Linked DNA regions of Homo sapiens: region 1 is linked to region 2. Evidence: fine-mapped expression QTL. A gene starts in region 2. The other region holds a variant in brackets. All regions are shown on one strand. Distances are between the middles of the regions.

Region 1 (2,921 bases), 280 kb before region 2:
ACGTCACTTAGTATTTTCCAAGTGCTTACTATGAACCAAGCATTGTTCTGAAAGAATTAGAAGTAACTTAATTCTTATAATAAGACAATTAACAGAAAAATTTTCCCAAAAAAACACCCATACTTTGCCTACTTGTGTTTATCTACTTATTTATCTAAGTATATATGTATCTATCTCTCTAGAAAAGAATTTTTCATATATTAAGGGCTTGTTTCCTTGCCATCGAGGACAAAATCCAAACTTATAAGACCATATTTCATGCCTCAGTGGGCATATCCAATGGTGGGTGAATAATTCCATGATTGAAAGATTATATTCCATGCATGGAATCTGACTATTCATGCTAAGGAAGCAAGGTTCCATGTCTAGGAAAACCAACTTCCATGACCAAAATCTAAGTTCCATGTCTGGAATGTCAAGTTCTGCATTTGTATGGCCATGTTCCCTTTTTGGAATTTGTGGTTCTAAACATGGAGTGTCAGTTGCCCTGCTTATATGGTCATATTCCATTCTTGGAGACTGAGATTGTATACACTGAATGGCATATTCCAAAGATAATATTCCATGCTGAAGACTAAGATTTTATACATGGAGTGGCATGTTCCATACGTGAAAGCACAGTTCTACAGTTGAGGGCCACATTCAACACCTGGAGATGTATGATGTCATACTGAGAAAGCCATATTTTATCCACAGATAGCCAAATTCCAAACATTTAGACTCAGATTCCATATTTAGGGATCAAGTGCTAAGACTAAAACATCTCGTTTCATTCCCAGAAGTACAGGTTAGATATTTAGAAGTCCAGAGTTCAGATCTAGATGTCCAGGAACCATTTCTAGTGGGCCAGATGACATGTTTTGAGATTCAGGTTTCATCCAAGAACCTGAGGGTCCAAGCTTGGTAAAAGATACTTCACATAGGTCATAACCTGTGGCATATCTGAAAGACTACTCCATGGCCAGAAGACAAGGATCCATATATAGCAGCTCAGGCTCTATACCTAGGTTAAGTGTGTATGCTTGGAGAGGCAGGATTTATTTCTGCAGAGACATTCCATGTCTGAATAATCAGATTCTGTGCTTGGAGAGTCAGGGTTGATATTTTTAAGGGCCACATTAAACACCTGGAAGGCCAGTGTGCCTGCTTAGAGGGCTAGATTTTATGCTGGAGATGATGGGGTCAAAGTTCTATGCCTTTAGGGCCATATCTCATGTGGAGGACCAGATTCCATGTTGTATGACCAAGTTCCATGCTTGAAGATTGAGATTTTATATATGACATATCAGATTTTGTGCCTGGGAGACTGGTTTCCATTTCTCAGAGTGGCAACATGTAAGGGGTTCCTTTAAGAGATTTGGGGCTAATCAGGGAAAGAGATATGACCACAAGATGCAGTAACACCCAATAAGCTTTATTGTGTGGTGCTTAGACAGGTTGGCATAGAGGGGAAGTCCCTACAGGATGAGTCCATCCAGAGGCTTATGGTGAGTGGGCCATCATCCAGAAAAGGAGGAGGCAAGGGAACCTC[G/A]GGTTAAGGGGATAGAAGAGGGAGGCTGTGTATCTAAGTGATGTTCATTCAGCAGCATAACAGAGTGTCTCTGGGTCAGAAAACTCAGAAGGGCAGCAGCAGCACCTTGGTGTCTTATAACCACAAGACTCTACCTTATCAATGGCTAGCAGATATTGGGTGTAGTTTCATTGAATATGCAAAGCAGGTTGGCCCTAAATGCCAAAATTATGCTTGTTTGGGAGCATTTTTAAAACAATTAAATGTGTAAAAATTTAAGTGTGAGATCAGTAGGCTTTTGAGCTAATGGTTCTCAACCAGCAGTGAAGAAATAACTTAGGGACCAATACACAGAGGCCATCTTTGGCTCATTTACATAACACAGCATCTATAACTGAAAATTCAGGTACCAACCATGTCTAGGTTGCCAGTTTCCACACTTGTAATATCAGTGTTCCATGTTTGATAAGTGAGAGTCTGCACACAAAGTGCCAGGCTGTATACTTGTAAGGCCACACATAGTTTGCCATATGCCTTGCATGTGGAGTCATGTTCCATGCATGGAATTTGAGACTTCATACTGGAAATGCCAAGTTTCATGCTCATAAGTTTCCATCTTTGGAGACTGTGATTCCACACATGAAGTGACATGTTCCATACCTCAAGGCACAGTTCTATAAATGGGGGGTCAAGTTCAATGTCTGGAGAACTACCTTACCACACTCAAAAATTCAGGTTTTACTTATAGATGGCCAGTTTTGAACATGGAGAATTATATTCCATGTCTACAGTCAAATATCAAAACTGGAAGGTTTTATTTCAGACTTAGAAGTTCAGATTAGATATTTTAGGCCTAGATGATCAGATTCCACAGTTGTTGGGCTACATAACATCTCTTTAAATTTTGGTTCTACCACTAGAAGGCTATGTTTTAAGCCTGGAGAAAGAGACATCAAACGGGTAGGAAGTCATGGTTTGCCTCCAAGGTCTAATTCTATGGCTAGAGGCTCTGATTCACATCTTGAATTCCAGATTCCACATGAGATTCTAGAAGGAGTGATTCTATAGGAATGATCCTATAGGAATGATCCTATGTGTGGAAGGGCAGGATTCACATTTGGATGGACTTTCCATGCCTATAAAGTAAGATTCTATACTTGAAGGGTCAGGACTCATGTTTAAATAGCTACATTCAACACTTAGAGGGCCAGCCTTCATCCTTAAAGGGCTGGGTTCCATTACAGGAAGTTTAGACCCTAAGAAAGTTATACTAAGTCTCAGTGGAGAACCAATTTTCATGCCTGATCTGGATTGCCGTATTGCACAATTGTAAGACCTTGTTTCATGCTTGGAGACTGAGATTCCACACATGAAGCACCATGTACCATTCTTGTAGGCTCAGGCTTCATGC
Region 2 (2,921 bases):
TATTCTACATAATACGATTTAGATAACAGTAAAATATTCATATCAAATTGGCCCATTAGAGGAAATTCTCTTGCCTGGTGTCCTCTGATACAAGTTTAATGCTGACCAACAAAAATGACCTGTAGGTTTTCTGTGGGCAAGTCTCTCTCTGTGCCTTATTTCTCAAGCCATGGCTCACACTGAATTATTTACAGCTAAGCATCTTTTTCCTTTGTTTTTCTTCTTGTTAAGTATGGATTAAGATCTAGATAGTTTATTTTGAAGTTACAAAATGTTAAATAGAAATTTTAAATACTAAGCAAGTTCAACCTGCTCTACATCAGCTCTAATTCCAGACTTGAACTTAAAAACTTGTATTACAAGAAACATTACCTACTTATATTTTCAAAATCATTAACTTTTGCTTCCTTGGGTTTTTAAACTTTGCTCATATTTAGCCAAAAAAAGAGAGAGATGCACTTAAGGAACATTTGCAAGTGCCATTTTGACCAATCTTTTCACTAACCTAAGTGGGTTTTTTTAAGTCTTGCCTTCCATTTTCTTGTAACGCCTGACTCCACCTTATTTATTTACTATAGTAATCAACTAAAAGGCTTAGAACAACGATCGATTTTTAAATAAATCGAATAGTATGGTAAATAGATTCCATATTTCTCCAGATCCCATTGCATTTAATCTTTTTTTATTCTTCTTGAGAAAAAAATAGAAATATATGTATTATTAATTTGGGTTACTTTTTACAAGTTAATTTCAATCTCACCCAGATATGTGTTAAAAATATCCCATCTTCCCTTCTATGAGAAGTAAGGTCCTTCCTTCTCATTCACAATTAAATCTAACACATACTCCTTGAAAGTAGGAGTAAAAAGGAGGGGCAGGAATTTCAGACATATTAGGAATATTGATTAACTGTATTCATTTTGGATATGGCAATTCACTGAGTGAACAGAGCACTGTTGGGTGAATGGTAGCAGAAGCATATTGTTCAAGCTAAAGCCCTTTCAAGGACAGATGCCAAGGTGAGCAATACTCCTGGTTTCTCAGCAACGGAAAAAGATTTGTGAATGATTGTGAAAGATTTGCACCACCTCCTAGCTGCGCTTAGGGGCTGTTCTGAAAACAGCTAAGCAGAGCTTGGGAAATTCATGTCACATACTGTAGCCCTGGGTAAGAAGTGGTGAAATACACACACACACCATCACCACCACCACCACCACCACCATCACCACCACCACCACCACCACCATCACCACCACCACCAGAAAAACCCTGCGGAGAAGCTATCAGGCAGGCGGGCTTGCCTGGGAAGGCACAGTCAGCATCCTTCCTCAGCCCAAGCGAGAGGCTCACCTCCACCTCCAAGCTAGAGCTCCCAGGTCTTTATCCTTCTGGGCGTTTCCTTGCAAATCTACTTCCTTGCAAAGTAGAGGGATCTACGCTGGCCTTACCTCTGGGGCTGCTTTCTTGCAAGTACGGTGGGGCGGTGGGAGTGACATTTCCGGAGTGGGATGCTGACAGCAGAGGCGAGCGTTCGTCCACCCCATCAGCAGCCATGACTGCGGCAGCGGCGGGGCCTGGGGAGGCCGAGCCGGGGTTGCGGCCTCGGCGGAGTGGTGGCTACTGCTGCTGCCTCTGCTGCCGCTGCTGCCGCTGCAGCTGCTGCTGCTGCCGCCTCCGGGAGGGCCCGGGATGTGTCACAAGGCAGGAAGCGGGGGGAGGGGAGGGGAGGGTGCAGGACCAGGAGGCGGGGGAAGGGAAGCGCGCTGGGAGGCATGGCTGGGGGAGGGGAGGGGAGGGAGAAAGAAAGAACCCGCAGAGTGGGAGGAGCAGCAGTGGAGGAGCGGGAGCCCAGCCAGCCAGAGAAAAGGGGAACAAATTAGGACCAACTGGGAAACGCGAGGAAAAGAAGATGCCAAGTAACTGAAAGGGGGTCGAGAGTAAATGGGATGGAGGGGGACAAGTCCTTTGCTCTAGGAAAGACGGATAAAAAGCAGCCTGAAAGGGGCTAGCGAAGAGGAAAGGCCTGTGACTTGATTACAAGAAAACTGGAGCAAAAGCAGATTATCAAGTTTATCTCCCCTAAGGAGGAGGAGGGACTGACTCTTTGCTGTCAAACTTTGCAGCAGTTATATAAAGAAAACATCTTCCTGGGGTTATCAATTCCTCTAGGGTTTTTTTGTGGGAAATCAGTTTTCAACATCTGTTATCTAAGAGAAAGTAGATCTTTGCGGAAGTGTCAGCATTCCCTACTTTTCCTGATTGATTTTTTTTAACAACAGGAATGTTGGCCTGACCGGTTTGGAACTCTGGTAACAGTACCTTTTTGGAACTATGCAGTGTGTTGCCTTTTACAAGTTTCATTTTACAAAATAGGTTGTCATCTTAGTTTTGGTTTTGTAGCCTATTGTCCCTGACACATATACAGTAAGTAGGTTTATGAATAACGTCAAACAACGAAAAACAAGTTTCTTGAGACAAAAGTTTTAAAATAATCGTTTACTTGTAAAACAGAGTTAAAACACAAAAAACCCTAAGCACTGACAAAGATTCTTTGCTTGGTCAAACAAGTAAGGTTTCTGAATCTTATGCTGGGCCCATCTGCACTTCCTTATAAAATCCAGTTTTAGCAAAGAACCCTACTAACTTAATTTAGCAAGAAGCCCCATTCTCAATATTGATATTTGATCAGGTTCCTCATCCTCCAGCATCCCCCATGTGAGGCCTGAACTCCTGTTCTGTCTTCAGCAAGAATCCCGTTTGCTTGGTTTAGTCAGAATCCCCCTTATCCCTGATATTTCCTTGGTAATTTTCCATCTACTGCCCCTGTCCTGCATGCTCCTAGGCTATAAATTCCCACTTGTCCATGCTGCATTCAGAATTGAGCCTAATCTCTTCTTCAACATGGCAAGACCCTGCTGCCA

The links. PIP is the estimated chance that this variant, and not a neighbour inherited with it, causes the effect.
Region 1: its variant is the best candidate, but not a certain one, in a credible set for the expression of PIP4P2 in whole blood (INTERVAL, PIP 0.78).

Annotation. Positions count from the first base shown.
Region 1 is chr8:90,762,112-90,765,032 of GRCh38, forward strand. The region is part of intron 1 of LOC105375633 (a long non-coding RNA gene); the gene reads right to left. Among named protein-coding and RNA genes, the nearest start is that of NECAB1, 28 kb to the right of the region's middle. The variant G/A (reference allele first, on the strand shown) is at 1,532.
Region 2 is chr8:91,039,196-91,042,116 of GRCh38, forward strand. PIP4P2 (phosphatidylinositol-4,5-bisphosphate 4-phosphatase 2) reads right to left here and starts at 1,664. Exons shown (of 7, transcript NM_018710.3): 1 at 1,449-1,664. The coding sequence starts at 1,554. RefSeq lists a silencer at 1,686-1,885.